Regions from separate parts of the Homo sapiens genome. Here region 2 is linked to region 1. Evidence: fine-mapped expression QTL. A gene starts in region 1. The other region holds a variant in brackets. All regions are shown on one strand. Distances are between the middles of the regions.

Region 1 (8,535 bases):
ATTTTTTAATAACAATGAACACTTGGGAAGGATTTAAGGTGTCAGTGGGGAGTGCTCACCACTGCCCCCACCCTGGTCAAGCCATCCTAAGCTGTGCCTGGATGGCTGTGTGTAAGGAACATGGCTGTGCTTTGGTCAAGGATAGGACGAGGTAAACATCCACAGGGACTCAGCGAGTTTAGAGCGCAGGCATATAACTCCACTTGTTATCACAGCTATGTAGCCATAACATGGGAAGGCCATCCCTTGGCTCTAAGCCACTATTGTCTGTAAAAGGTATAATTGCCCTGTTGACATCGTGCAGGCGTGCTGACACCCAGAGAGAGAGAGAGAGAGCCAGAGTTGACCCTCTTGGAGACTGACAGTGGGGAGCCAGGACACAGCTCGGCTTGCTCATGCCCAGAGAGAGGAAGAGTTAAGCTGCTGACCCCGAAGGCAAGGGAGAGTCGGCCATGCAGCTGTGTGGGGGAGCCGCCAGACTAAGCACCTGAGACAGGGCAGACAGTGTAGAGAGCTAGTGTAAGAAAGCTGTTGATGAGAGCTGCTGCTGAGTAAAATCATCTTTTACCTGCCTACGGTCCCCTGAGTGTTCTTTCTGCTCATCCACCCACTCCCCTTGGACCTCAGCATGGGCTAGAACCTGACCCCAAGCATGACATTTGGCTCAGTCGTGAACCTGACATTGTGGTAGCCTCCACGTAGTCTCTGCTTCTTGCCCTTGCCCCTGCCATCTACTCTCCACTTAGCAGCCAGAGTGATCCTTTCAAAATGAAATCAAACTGCTTCCTTGCTTCATTTCAAAATGCTCCCACCACCCTCACTGCTCCACCCTGGTCTGAACCACAACCTCCTGGGGCCTGGATATAGCAATACCTCCCTAAATGGTTTTCCCTCTTCCATCTTCTTTCCCCTTAGCACAGAAGTGAAAGTGCTTCTTTTCAAATCACAAATCAGATCATGTCACTCTGCTCAGAACCTTCCAGTGGCTTCCCGTCTGACTCAGCACACCCATATGACTCAACACACAAGGAGATCATCTCCTTCCAGTTACACTGAGCATTTTTATTGGTTGCTGACTGTACTCATAATGCTCTCTCCTTATATCCACACGGTTCACTCCCTCACTTCCTTTAAGCATAAATCAAATCCCTTATCTTGGTATTGACAAGACAAGGACAGACTCCTCCAAAGTGAGCAGGGAGGTCATGACCACCCTAGCTTAAATTTTACCAATCCATACAGCCTCATCCTACTTCCCTGTTTTATTTTTTCCTCTTAGTATTTATCATCTTCTAATAAATTAAATAACTTAGATATAGCCAGGCGTGGGGGATCATGCCTGTAATCCCAGCACTTTGGGAGGTTGAGGTGGGCAGATCACCTGAGGTCAGGAGTTCGAAACCAACCTGGCCAATGTGGTGAAACCTTGTCTCTACTAAAAGTACAAAAATTAGCTGGGCGTGGTGGTGTGTGCCTGTAGTCCCAGCTACTCAGGAGGCTGAAGCAGGAGAATCGCTCGAACCCGGGAGGCAGAAGTTGCAGTAAGCTGAGATGGTGCCATTGCACTCCAGCCTGGGAAACAGAGTGAGACTCCGTCTCAAAAAAATAAATTAATTAATTATTTTTTTAAAATAACTTAGATATAGCCGGGTGTGGTGGCATGCGCCTGTAATCCCAGCTACTGGGGAGGCTGAGGCAGGAGAATCACTTGAACCTGGGAGGAGGAGGTTGCAGTGAGCAGAGATCGTGCCACTGCACTCCAGCCTGCGTGACAGAGCGAGATTCTGTCTCCAAATAAATAAATAAATAAACTTAGATAAAATTTTTCAAGTGCCTACCTCGTCTGCCCCAAACACAAATAAACTAGAATATAAATTCCATGAGGAAAGAGATTTTTATTGGTTTTGTTCACAGCTGTTTTCCTAGCACCTAGAACAGTGTCTGGCACATAGTGGACATTCAAAACACATTTGTTAAATGAAAGGATTCATCCTAAAGTTAAGGATGGTTCAGTAAATCGGATGGAAGATGATGAAAAATTAAGCAATTAGAAAAAAACTGTCCTTGTGTAATGTGTCAACATGGAAACAGGACATAATGTAAACATCAGAATCCCTTGCTGTGATTCTGGTTTTTGTGGCTCTGGTTACATTGTTTTTTTGTGTGTGTTTTTTTTTTTTTTTGCTTTCCCGTTTCTTAAACATTGGCGTTCCCAAGTTTCTCCTTGGTCCTCCTGTCATTTTTATCTACTCTCGTAGCTTCAAATACCATCTAGTTTATAGTTTATTTAGCATGTTGTCCAAGCCACCGTCTTGGGCCCAGGGCTCTACCTGTAGCTTTTCATCCACACTTCTCAGGTTGCTTCTTACACAGCGCCATAGTAGTTAAAATACGGTCTGGGGATAGTCGTCTCTTCATCAGTCTCCCCCTATAAAATGGAGGACTCATAGTATAAGTTGCCTAGAACATATTAGTAAGGACTCAATAAATGTTTGAGTAGGATGAGCTGGGTGGCTCATGCCTGTAGTCCCTGCACTTTGGGAAGCCGAGGCGGGTGGATGGCTTGAGCCCAGGAGTTTGAGACCAGCCTGGGCAACATGGCGAAACTCCATCTCTATAAAAAATACAAAAAAACTAGCTGGACTCCCAGCTGCTTGGTGGCTGAGGTGGAAGGATCGCCTGAGCCCTGGAGGTGGAAGCTGCAGTGAGCCGAGAATCGCACCACTGCACTCCAGCCTGGGCGACAGAGTGAGATCCTGTCTCAATAAATAAATAAATAATCAGTTGAGTGCATACTGTGTGCCCAACTACCTTTAAGAACTTTACATATGATCCCGGCAGCCCTAAAAGGTAAGCATATCTATCTCCATTACACAGATTAACTAATGAGGAAAAGCTATGTTTATAATGAACAGTGACCAAAAAGTATGCAAACGTTAAATGAGGTGTTAAAGTGGTGGGATTGTAGGTGGTTTCTTTTTTTCTTTCAAAAATTTGTTTAGTATTGTAGTTAGGCTGTTTGTGTGTATGCATGTGTATGTGTGTATGAGTGCGTTTGTGTGTGACCAAAACAGTAACTGGCAAACGTAACAACAGGAAATTGTAGGGCAGGGTCTGGGAAAAGGGGAGGAACCCAAGGTACTGACAAGCCCAGACCGGACTCCCCCGAAGTGAGCAGGCAGCAAAGGCTGAGAGTGCCAGCTGCCTGGGCACTGACGGACCCCACCCACGGAAACGATGCCTTATGAGGAAGCTAACCCGGGCCACTTACCGACGACCTGCGCAGGCGTGGCTTGAGGAAACGCCCGCTGTGGGCGGAGCCACCCGAAAGGCTCCGGTCGGGGGCGGGAACAGGATCGGCCCGCGGGCTGGCGTCGATAGGCTGCCGCAGAGACAGGGCGGGCTCTGCTAAGCGACGCGCCTCGCCGTGGGGCGGTGCCTGCGCCTGAGCCTCTACGAGAGGGAAGGAACGCTGCTCCGAGCTCCGCGTCGCGTCGCGTAGATTCGCGTCGCCGTCGACCTCAGAGGCGGGGCCGGAAGCGCTACGGTTTGACCCCCGAGTCCCTCTGTTCCCGAAGGGGCGGCCGTCTTTCTCCCGACCCGCTCCGCCTCCTCTCCTTCTTCCCCATTACCCGGAGGCCGAAGCCCCCAGCCAGGGCGGGGCGGCGCAGCCCGAGCTCCCGGACCCGGAAGAAGCGCCATCTCCCGCCTCCACCATGGAGCCCACCGCACCGTCCCTCACCGAGGAGGACCTCACTGAAGTGAAGAAGGACGTGAGTAACGCAGCTGTGCCCAGGGCGGGCGGGGGCGGGCTGCAGCCCAGCGGGAGACGAAAGCGGAAGCCTGGAGTCCGAGGACAAGGAGGATCCTCCAGGTCGGAGGAGCGGAAAGTCCTAGCACAGGAGGACTGTGGCGAGCCCTGCATCCGAGGGACCTTGGTGGCAGTGATCCTCCAGTGATCTGTCAATCCAGGTTTTACATCGCTAAACGCAGAGCTTGGGCTTTGTTGCCAAGTGGTGTTTTGATTCTTGCCCACTCCTCACCCATCTCCTCATGCTTTCCCCCCAACTGGGTTCTTGGAGATGCTTCGTTAGGGACTGGCGGCTCAGATTCATCCTTAAGTCAGGCTGCCTAGGCTGCTCACTCAGCCTAGAGCGAAGGCTGTACCAGGTGAAGGATCCCAAGCAGTGGACCAAAAATGTGAAGCTCTTTTGCATAAGGGGGCTTGAGGAAGCTCAACAGCTGAAAGCACAACCTGGAATTCCCCTAGTAAGCAGACGCCCACATATTTAAATTGGGGTTGGGGGAGTGAATACACGTAGCTGAGAATTAATGTACAGGTAAACGTCGAAAATATTCAGTAGCTAAATTATGCTCTTCTCGGATGGTGCAGAACCACATAAACCTTCATATTTATTCGTAACGAATGGCTTTGTTGAGATATGACATTCTTTTTCCTTTGCGTTTACTTGTTTTGTCAGATGAGACCTATATGAGTATCACTAAAATACTTTATCTGAAGTCAAATGAAAAACAGAAACTCAACATGAAACGTGTTCTTATTGAACACTGCAGTACTTTTACAAAGTCATTTTGATGAACTGGACAGGATGGCAACTTTTTAAATGTTCATCCACTTCAAATCCCTTCCTCTTCCCTGTAAGGTTTATTACACTGTACTCACAATTGGTGTGACTCACCAGCAGAAGGAAACTGGATATGACTGGGAGTTGTGCTTAGTTTCCTCATTCAACAGAGATTTATGGAGCACTTGCTATATGGAAAGCACTGGCCTTGGGTCTGGAAGGATACAAAAAAATGAAGATCAGTTTCCTGCTTTACATTCTAGTTGAGATAAGAATGGAACATAAATAACTACTGTAGAATAAATGTTGTCTTATTCATGGTGAGTGCCAGTAAAACCTTGAACTTCCAAGAGCTAGGCCTCCTATGTTCCAGATGCTGTGTCACACAGTTTACAATGTTCCCACTTAACCTTCGCAACAACCTCTAAAGAAGATAATTGCCATTCCCATTTTACAGCTAATAAAACAGGAACTGAGAAATTACAAGTGGAAGGAAATAAGATCTGTATACAAGTACAGATGTGAAGAGTGGCTTCCAGGTCTTTGTTCTTCTCTGTCAATTCATTGATGTTATCTGTCTTCAGGATTTCATTTTACGCCTATATCAGAAATAAATAACCTTGAGGAAACCATGGATGGGTTTCAAAAGGTCTATGAAAGAAACTATGTGCATGCTTTTTTCTTAGAGGTTTTTTTCATGATATTTTCAAAATGTCTTCTGATCTTAGAGAGTTTTAAAATTATCCACATATTTGGACTTTTCTCTCCACTCTAGGTCCTTATTTCCAAATGTCTACTGGAAATCTACTTTTATATCCTACAGATTGCTCACCTTGTCAAATATTGAACTTTTACTATCCTTTTCCCAAAGTTGCTTACTGTTGCTGCTGTATTGCCTTTCTTGATGAATGGTGTGCTACCACCCTTTGTCTTGGGACCTCCCACTTCTTTAGTGTCTCCCCCTCCTCCTATCTAGTTATTTGCCTCATTGTGTTAGTTGGATTTAGTACAGTTTAATAAATATGGATTACATGCTACTGTGAGGCTGATACTGTGGTTGGTTCTAACAGTTCAAAAATTAAAAATGAAAACACAATCCTAACTTGAAAAGAGCTCAATTTCTTGAGGGGGATTGTTTTAAATCACAAAATAAGTGCAGTGAGTTTTGCATTCAACTGAAACATTAACTACTTGGTGCCCTAGTAAGTGCAGGATATACAGTGTTGGCTAAAACATACCTCGTAGCTGCCTGCTTCAAACAGAGACGTTAGTTTAAAACAAATAAATAAATTTTGTTTTCATTATTGCAATTACTATGAAGGAATCAAACAGTGCCAAGACAATAATAGGGGAAATCGACTTGAGATAGGATGGTCAGGAGAGGTTATATTTAAACTGATTCCTGAAAGATTTGACAGAACTGAGGGAAGAGCATTCTGGGCAGAATAGAATTTGTCAAGGACCTAAAATAGGCAAGACCCTGGTGACTTGGGGAAATCGGAGGAAGGCAGAGGGTAATCTGAAGTGAAGTTAGGAAGGTGGGCTAGAGCCATTTTCATGAAGAGCCTTTTAGTAAAGTATCTGGGGTTTTTTTCCCCCCAAGTATAGTAGGGACTTGTTGAAGAATTGTATAGTTTAAAGATCCCTCTGCCTGTTTCATGGACTGAGGAGAACAAGAATAAGAACAGGGAAGCCAGTGAGCAGGCTCTTGGAATCTATAGAGATGAATGAGGATGGTGATTTGGATCAGGGTGAAGGCAGTGGAGATGAATGGAGCAGAATTCCAGATGCAGTTTTTGAAATAGAAATGATATGACCTGGTGATGGATTGAACATGGGAGTTGAGGAAGAGGATGTAATTAGATTAGTACATGGAAATGTCAGATCAGCAATTACATCTGCAAAGTCAAAGATCAGAAGAGAGATCTGAGCTAGAAATGTAAGTGTGGAATTGAATGATTTTACCTAGAAAGCTGTGAGCTAGAAGAGAAAAATGGTGTAAAACCCTTTAAAGAGAAGAATTTTAAAAAGTGAATTGTTAGCTTGAAAGTAGGGTAACAACAACAACAAGAAAATGATTGAAAAGTTGTATCCACAGGGATGGGAAGAAAACCAGGAGAGTGTGGTATTCATGTAACAATTTTCTTGTTTCAGGGAGGGAGTAGTCAACTGTGTTTATGCAGCTGAAAAATGAAATGAAGACTGAAAATATTTGGCAATAAGGGGGTCATTGGTGACTTCGAGAAGAATACTGGGGCAGGATGGAAATGTCTGGGAATGAATTGGGAAATGAGGTGAAAGAAGTGGAGTCCTGGTGTATAGAAAGATGAAGTGTATACACAAGGTGCTACAAGGACAGAGGACGGGGTGCCTAACTCATTCTGGGGAGTTAGGTAAACCTTTCCAAAGAAGATGACCACTGACCTAAATCTTAAAGGACGAATAGGGGCTTTAGGGTCTGATAAAAGCAGACAAAAAATACGTAAGGAAATGTAGAGAGACAGATAGTTTTAGGTAGAGCATAAATTTTCAGGACAAAGGTAGTGATAGATTAAGCTGGAGAGGTAGGTAGGAGCCATATTATCAATGAACCTTGTCTTCCATAATTAGTTATTATTGAGTACTTACTGTGTACAGAGACTATGCGTGGCCTTCATATATAGTATTCCCATTTAGTCCTCCTTGATGTCCTGTGAGTTAAGTTTTTAATCCTTATTTTATCAATAACATACCTGGAGCTTGGAGTGGTGAAGTAACTTGGCCCAGCTCTCACAAGGGTGAGTACTAGATTCAAGATTTGCACTGAGGTTGATCCAACTTTAGAGCCATGCCCTTAACTTTTCTACTCTTCTGCCACGTAAAGGAACTTTATCCTTTAAGACAGGGCAGAACATTGTTTTTAATTTTTTTTCTAAATTAACAAAATTTCAATATTAGAATTTGCTGGGCACAGTGGCCCACACCTATAATCCCAACAACTCAGGAGGATAAGGTGGGAGGATCACTTAAGGCCAGGAGTTCAAGACCAGCCTAGGTAATGTAGCAAAGATCCCTTCTCTACAAAAAAAAAAAAAAAAAATTAAAAATTAGCCGGGCATGGTGGCTCACACCTGTAGTCCTAGCTACTCAAGAGGCTAAGATGGGGATCACTTGAGTCTAGGGATTCCAGGCTGCAGTGAGCTATGATCAAGCCACTGCACTCCAGCCTAGGTGACAGAGTGAGATCCTTAAAAAAAATTTAGTAAAATTCATATAATACTCCAGATTTCCATTTTCTCCTGAAGGAGAAATGTTGAGGAGGGGGAAGGAAGTAGTAAGTGCAGCTAGGTTTCTATTGTTAATAGTCCATGCCAGATATGATAAGGACCAGGTCCTGGACATAGTTATTTGCTCACTCTGTGCTTTTCCTGTATTTGACCTATAATCTTTTTTTTCTGGGCCCGATCACATTGTTTTATAATTATTACCTGTGATATGTATTCCCAGCTAGACCATGAGCCCTTTGCATGTAGGATTCAAATCTTGTTCATCTTTGTATACTCAGTGCTCAGCACTCGGCATATTAGGAATTTAGATTTGTAAAATACTTGTCATGTGAATAAACAAGTAAATGTGGAACTTCGTAGACCAAGAACCACAGGAACCCTTCACCTAGCCTACTTTCCTGCCATTACCTTTGTCATTATTACTAACATATATTGATCACTTACTATGTACCAAGCGCTTTTCTAAGCACTTTGCATATCTTTATTCCTCATATAACAGTCAGCTGAGGAAACAAGCACAGAGGAGTTAATTACTTGCCCAAGATCATATATCTAGTAAATAGAGGAGCTAAAATACAGTCACCGGTACCAAATTATTAATGCCATTTATTGAGATCAACATGGATTTTCTACTAATTAAGCTCTTAGGCACTTCTCAAATCTAGGTTTGCTTTTTTGTGGTG
Region 2 (8,000 bases), 180 kb after region 1:
TCTGCCTATAAATTCAGTGATGTGTGTATGCTTTCTAGTGAATTTCTGTTTAAGTTCTGGATCATCCCCTAACTCCTACTCCCAAGGAAATTTCAGAAGAGGCCTTTTTTTCCAAGAGGTAGTAATGCTTGTAGCTTTTGTTCTTCCATGGAATCTTATACAATATGTGGTTCAGTCCCAGCAACACAAATAGATTTCACCCAATTCTGTTTCAGTTTTGAAGCTGGGTTACCCCGTGAACACCTCAGGAGCTGATACCGTGTGTAACACGTCTCTATACCCTGCTTCCTGGTGTGGTGTCTGGCACACAATTGGCATGCCTTCCTTCTGCTGAATTGAATCCTTAAGTCCAAGGAACTGCCAAGTCAAAACTTATTACCAAAGGTTGTCTACATTAATACATAGCTGAAAAAAATTCTGTTAAGTACCTGCCCATTGATACAGCCTCCAGCAATGATATTAGGATCACTCGGACAGAACTTGAAGCAGAAGATGTCATCTGGGCTCTCCAGCATTAACTAAAGTAAACCCAGCAAATTCATGAAAGAATGAGAAAAGAGATTAAGATCATGGCGAGAAAATAATATTAAGACAGTTAAAAGTCTAATTTTATAGCTATCTATAAGCAAGGTGCGTAGAGAGTCTATTCTCAGAGTTCTGCCTCTGGACTAAAAGCTGCTTTTGCTTAATTTTATTGTGCACATTGGCCATACGAGTGACAGTGAGTATGTTCTCAAGGGGACCCAGGTATTCCCCAACCCACCCCTCAGTGGAAACAAATTGTAGTTATTTTGGGAGCATGTTACAATGTTTATAACAAAAAGACTATGAAATTAGTGTTCCTGAAAACCATGGAAGGGAAGCTCTGTGAGGACAGGATCTGTGTCTGTTTTGTTGCTTGCTGAATACTGAGCCAGGCACTCCTGGAGTGGAGAGGAGATCTACAGGGTAGAAAGGTTAGAAAACTCTAGTGAGAGAGTGGCTCTGTTTTTGTGGCTGACAAGAAAGGGCTAGAGATCTTTCAATTTGATCTCTGGGTCTATAATCATTAAAGTATCTAGAATCTATTACAGTAAAACTACCTTAATTCAAATGAATTGGGGAAAGGAAGAAGGGGAGGCTAGGGTTTTTTAGGGAAAGTCTTAATTATGAATACTTTTTAGAAACAAAATATTATTATATTTAAAACATTGAAATAACTTAATCTAACACTATACACCACCCACCCACTAGGCAGATCTCTTATTGAGCAGACCATGAAAACTAGAACCCTGTGTAGCAAACCCAGCCTTCAGCCTCATTTTATTTGAATTGCTATGTGTTTTGGTTGGTTTGAGTGGGGTTTTTGTGTGTTTTGGCTTGGTTTTAGTTGAGCTATTTAAAATTGGGCGATTTCATACAAAATTCCAAATTTCTCAATTCTCTTGACAATGGGACCACCTGGCAACAAGAGGGCAGCCAGCCTAGAGATGGATAATGCACTCTCCAAGGCCGCAGTCCCTACCACTCCCCAGTGCTCTCCCACACATTCACCTTTATTTATTACCCAGTGATCCTTGGAATTGAGGAAACTCATGTGAAACTAAAATCTATTTGCATTTGACCAATTAGTATTCAAGTAAAGTCCATAAAAGAGTTTGTTTTAAAAATAGTTTAAACATTCCTCTTACAATCTTTGAAAAAAATAGCATGTTGATTTGTTCAATAAACAAATTGTAAACTTTAGTTTTGCTCAAATTGAATGATGACAAGTTCTGCATTGAAGAAAGCCTAACTTTATAAATGTTTACAACATTACATGATTATAAAGTACTTTGCAATAAAAACTGCTAAAGGTATACATGAAAGTAGTATTTGAAAATTTAGGCTATGTAGGCAACTCTCCCTAATTACCTGAGGATGTATAGGATCAGAGAAGCTCCAGAAAAGAATCAGTGATGGCTGCAGCAATAATTTACCAGAAAAGTGAACTCTGTCTTCAAAAGAAAGTCGCACGGCTACCGACACAGCTATTAGCCCTGATGGAAACACATGTAGAAATTAAAGTTGGCAGCAACTATACATGGAGAGATGTCTCTAGCTTTTGCTTTTCTACACAGCCACTCTTCATTTACACTTTGTCCACAGGAGAGCAAGAGTTTTCTTAGAGCTCTGCTGGCTAATGTGGTTGCCACTAGTTACATGCTACTTATTTAGCACTTGAAATCTGGCTGGTCCAAACTGACATGTACTGTTAGTATAAAATATACAGGGGACTCAGAAGATTTTGGAAGAAAAGAAAATCTTGTTTTGTTTCTTTTTTGTGAGAAAAGGGCCAGTGTAGGGTGAAAGGAGGAAGAAAGAGGACAAATACCTCTCTCTTTCCATGTTTCCATCTTTGCACATCCCTACCTACCTCCCTTGGCTGCTGAGCTCTTTAAAGGAGGCACATTTCCTCTCTTGTCTAGTAATCAGAAAGGCAGTGTTAGGAGGAAGAAATTTAGCCTTGGGAGAGCAACAGGCCCAAGCCCAACCCAGACTCTGCCTTATGCCATCTGGGTGACCTGGGCGAGTCACTTCCCTGAGTTGAGCTTGGGTCCTTTTGTTGTGAAACAGAGATAATGACAGGTGTGTATCCTACAGGGTTGTTGGGAGGACACATGACAGTGAGGGCGTGGAAAGCACATGGCAGGTACCTAGTGAGTACAGAGCAAATGGAAGGTGTCTTATTGACATTGAACTAGTTTGCAATTTTACATATGAAAGCAACAGACAATTTCAATGTTATCACAAAAGGGAATCCCCATCATTTCCATCTCACCATAGATAGTTGGATGCCATGAGACACAGGTAATCATTTTCTCCGTTGGGCTATGAAGGTCGGTAAAGGACTGGTACTCTTTCAGGTGGGTATCGGTCTTGTCCCCAAAGGTGCCTTCTTCTTCTGCGAGGTATTTCCAGTCATCAATAAATGTGTTCATGATTTCATTTTGCTGCAGGGCTATTTCAACACTAATTTGTAAAAATAAAAAAAGCAATTAAGATATTGGTTTTTAGTATCCAATAATGTGACTATCTTAGCAACTCCTCCTCCTTCATTTATACTGAACAAAAAATAATAATTCTCAATTATATTTGGTGATAATGATTAACCTCATGTGAAATAAATGACTTAAGAGAAAAAAACATCATGGTGGCATGTTACTCAGAACCTCGAGCAACTTCATGATCTGCCTCAGTTTCCAAGCCAAGGCTGTACTCTCTCCAGGCCAATGCCTGAGCATGCAGCTGCAGGGATGGCTGGGCCTGGCCAGTCCTCCTTGTGCAGCACTCCCACAGCAGGCATCTTTGCTCTGGAGCTCCTGCTGAGTAGGCTGAGAATTTGTCTGATGCTCTACCTTCCCGGTCCTGTCTCCTCCTCCTTTATTTTTCACAGTGTAATCCTCAGTAAACGTCTGCCTCTAACTTGATGTCATTTGCTTCCTGGAAAGCCCCAACTGTCACAAATGGCAGTTTTCTTAGGCATATTCTGTACTAAATGATCACTTATCCTTAACAGGATAGCCCCAATACATATGTAATTCAAAACAACAAATAAGAGATTCTGAACAAGGGAAGAATTGGAGTTTAGAAGTGTGTGTGTGTGTGTGTGTGTGTGTGTGTGTGTGTGTGTGTAGTTTTAGTTGTCACAATGCCTGGGAGGTGCTACTGTGTTTAATTCCATTACCAAACCTCCTGCAATGCATGAGACAGTCCCCAAAATGAAAAATTATCCTGCTAAAAATACTAACATTGCTCCTTTAAGATACCATCTGAGTGCTAGGATCATTTGCTAATAGTCTAGGGACCTTGGTTTGACAGGCTCCTGTCTTAAAGTAGTTACTATGATAGTTATTGTCCCTTTTTATGCTTAGATCTGAAAGCTCTGCATACTCCCAAAGTTGCTAAGAGCCCTCCCACAATTAGAATGCCACCCAAGGTTTTACCCTACTGATCAAAACTGTAAACTTCTTGGTTTTATATAGGTGTGGTAAGTTGAAAAAGTGGTTCTCAATTGTGAATTTCTTAAAATAAGAAAAAATCCTTTAGATAGTTCAATATAAACAGTAAAAACAGATACTCCTAAAATATAAAAAAGGGCACCGTTTGATACCCCTGTCATTGATCATTACACTACCAGTCATTGCCTAATTGAGTCCTCCCTTGGTTAAATTCTTCTTGTATTTCATCTTTCAAAATAGACCCCTTTCCTAAGACCTGGCCACTTAAAGTGTGATCCAGTGACCACCAACATGACCTGGGGCTGTTAGAAATGCAGAGTCGCAGGCTCC[A/C]CCCGACTTACTGAGTCAGAACCTGCATTTTAACAAGAGTCCTCAGGTGATTCATAAGCACACTGAACATTGAATAACCCTGTGTAGCGGACTCTCGAGGCTTAAACAGTTTCCAGTAGAAGCATTAGTAAGCATTTTCCAAATCATATTTCTTTCTGGTTAAGCCCAAATGAGAAGGGAATTCTCAAGAGAAAAGTTAAAGACGTGGCTTCCGCTCTGGTTTCCTGATTCTACCTCCTTAGCCAGAACGGGGAAGTAATTCAAACGGAAGAAGTGAAAACACATCTTTCTTCTGGTTTCCGGTTTCTTGCTTTCCTGGAACCATGTAGCTCCCGAGAGTAACAAATTGGAGGCTAGCAAAACTGTTGTCTAGGAATTTTAACCCCGAAAGGAAGGTTTCTTAGTTGTTTTGTGAATCCCCCTGAAGTTCCTCTCTCTCATCTCATGTCATTGCCTTCTTTTGCAAATAATGCTTCCCTTAAGTTTGTTTTAGATAAAATTCTATGAGAAAGAAATTTCCCATTTCTAAAAGGGCTTTCTTCCAGAACAAAATCAGGCTTACCTTAATTAAAAACTATTGAATAAAGCTTAAGCAGTTTTAAAGCTGGAAGTTATGTTTGCAGTGATATAAACATGGGTTTCTTATCCACTCTGGGCCAGTGCTATTATAATTCCTGTGCCAATTTTCCTCTTTCTTCTTATAGATCTGGCTTCTCCTTCCCACATCTCAGGGATGGAATCATAAAGCTGTCCACTATTCTTTTCTTTATAAGCATGGAAATTCAGAGGGAAGAATAAAAGCCCAGGTCTAAAGATAATATACAATGTGGATTTATTTTGAACATTTTTTTATTCCCTCAAGATCTAGTTTTCTCTGGATATTGATTATATGTAAACAAACTTCTCATTTTGAATATTCTTACAGGAAAAATTGTAATGACTACTAAATTTTGATAAGGGGAGGGTGAAACTCAGGTTTTCTTGTTTCTATCTCATTGCCCGTATAGCAAAAATTATAGCATCCTTCCTGCGAGTGGCAAATAATGTTCTCTCTGAATCATTAACTGAATTTTTGAGCCAGAGTCTCCCTAGGCATAAGTAACAAGTTTGAGAGTTGTTGGAATTTTTAGGATATTTAATCCAGTATGAAAGAACCAACGACATTTCTTAAAAATAAAAAAGTTTAACTTGGGCTATATATGAACTTGACCACCAAGTTTTTAATTTTAGAAAGAAATAGAAACCAGCCTATTGAGTATAACTGGCAGACTTGTCCTCCAGTGGATCCACTTCTCTAAACTCTAGTATCAGCTTGGTGAGAACTTGTCAAGCTGTTTCTCTGGTTTAGAAGCCCCAGAACTCTACCCAGGGTCCTACTAACAGCTTAGGGGGCATTTTGAAGATGCTTCTCTTTCAAAGCCAGTAAGAGTGCAGGAACACAGGAATTGGTGATAAGAGTGAAATGTCCAAAAAGACATTTGAATTAAATTCAGGTTCTCATCTACAAAGATATTTTTGCAAATACTTATCATCATAATAATGGCCACAGCATTCTCCTCATCCTATAAAAAGTTAATGAGGAAGAGGAGTGAGGAGTGGAGAAAAAGAATTACGTAAAAGTAACCATGGTAAATACAAGTAAATGTTAATCTGCAATTAGGAAAACATCCTCACACACTCAACTCCTCACACAGTTTGATGTGGCCTTAGCTTGATAGGGCTAAGATGTTGCTTAGCAATAGAAAGGAAATAAATATTGAGAATCTGTAGAATGTGTCACACTGACAACTGTCTTCATACTTTTTATCTAGATACCCTATATGGAATTGTTTATTTAGACCTGTTATTCTATGTAAACATATACATTTTATGTTTTATTTTTAAAATTTAATATGCAATTTTTTACCTTATGGATGCATTGTTAAGAAAATCAACCAAAGGCTTTGATTGTTTGAGTGTCTCTTTTTCCTCTTCTGAGAATTCTCTTGGATAATATTGCGTAGTAGCATTTTTAGGATATGTCCTAATATATTAAAAGAAAATTCAATACTAAAGATTAGGTCAAAGAAGAGCAAATATGGGCCACAACAGGTCAAAAGTGTGTCTCTGTGACAATGATGTTAGGATATTATTTTATATTTAAATTATATACATTGAATTTTCTTTATCCTAGACAACTGATATTGACCACTATTCAAAGGCTACATGAATTTCTCTCCAACATAATCAAAAAAATCTTATTTTTGTAAAATTTTTACCTAGAAATCATTTCAAACTTATAGAAAAGTTATAAGAAGGGTATAAGGAATTCCCACACACCCTTCACCCAGATTCGTCAATTATTAACATTTTGCCATCTTTATTGTTTTCTCTCTCTCTTCATTTCACTAAGTCAGTGTCCACCTCACCCCCTCATGGGACATTTGGCAATGTCTAGAAACATTTTTGGTTGTCACAACCTAGACATGCTACTGGTGTCTAGTGAATAGATCCCAGGGATGCTGTTAAAAACCCTACAAAGCACAAGACAGCCTTCCCTCAAAGAGAATTATCCAGCCCCAAATGTCAATTTGTTGAAGTTGAGAAACTCTGCTCTAAACATACAAAACTAGGAATAAGATACATTTCAGCAGTGATGGTGGCAGGAAGTCTTGCTCCATCTAGTATGCTCTTAGTGGCCTCTGTATGTGAACACCTCATATGGCATTGTACCTCTGGGCTTTATCAATCTCAAGTATTAGACTGGGTGAGCCCTTGATCTTGGCATGTAGAGCTTGGAAAAGTCACAGGGCACAATCATTAAGAGTGTGGATTCTGGTGATTGGCTGCCTGGCTTTGAAGCCTGGTTCTATCATTTACTAGCTATATGACCCCTGAGCCAATTATCTAACCTTCTGTGCCTGTGTTCTCATCTCTAAATGAAATTATTCAAGTAGCTAGTTCATAGTGTCATTGTAAGGATTGAATGTGTTGATACATGCAAAACTTTAAAAACAGTGCCTAGCACATTTTAAATGATCAACAAAATATTATGTAGTATTTGTGTTTGTTGAACAAATGTCAGCACAATGCAGAATGTCTCTGTGAGAGGTAATATATTAAATGGAGAGTAATCAGACAAAGGGGTAAAGGGAGTTTTTAGAATAATTCATTTTTTTTCCTTGTTTAGGTCAGTATCCATAGCAGAAGGCAGAGTGGTAGAAAGAAATAATATTAGTATTGGAACCAGAGAGACTTGGGTTCAATTCTCAGCTTCACCTTTTAATTTCTGCTCTCTAGACAGGGTTAAGTAAAAAAAAAACAAAATGATATATTGCTTGGTGGTTTTATCAAAGTAGCAACATGCCTAAGAGTCACTCTTACTTTCGAAATATGATTTGTTTTGTTGTTTTTCAGCAAAACCATTCATTATTGCTTCAAGTTTAAATTATGCCCGAAACATTGGGCTTTCATTTTTAACCTCTCTTTGCTTCAGTTTCTCTATTTGTAAAATGGGGATAGTGCCTACCTCAGAGAGCACTTGTGAGGATTGAATTGATGTGTGTAAAGCACTTAGAAGAATGCCTGGTATGTGGTGGGAACACTAGGCATTTGCTTTCACTGTCATTATTCTTTGAACTTCATCTTTGATTTTTCTTGACTCCCTCCAATATAATCACATATCCTACTTTCTCTACCTCATACCAGCTA

What was found.
Region 2: its variant is fine-mapped to the expression of BCL10 in testis (GTEx, PIP above 0.99).

The regions. Positions count from the first base shown.
Region 1 is chr1:85,271,534-85,280,068 of GRCh38, reverse strand. It overlaps BCL10 (BCL10 immune signaling adaptor), which reads left to right and starts at 3,437. Exons shown (of 3, transcript NM_003921.5): 1 at 3,437-3,773. The coding sequence starts at 3,717. It overlaps BCL10-AS1 (BCL10 antisense RNA 1), which reads right to left and starts at 3,711. Exons shown (of 2, transcript NR_045484.1): 1 at 3,272-3,711; 2 at 1,981-2,428. RefSeq lists enhancers at 369-428, 619-728, 3,137-3,839, 3,045-4,244.
Region 2 is chr1:85,088,449-85,096,448 of GRCh38, reverse strand. It overlaps DNAI3 (dynein axonemal intermediate chain 3), which reads right to left. Exons shown (of 23, transcript NM_145172.5): 8 at 6,217-6,333; 9 at 2,801-2,991; 10 at 1,894-2,018; 11 at 429-518. Among named protein-coding and RNA genes, the nearest start is that of DNAI3, 30 kb to the right of the region's middle. The variant A/C (reference allele first, on the strand shown) is at 4,311.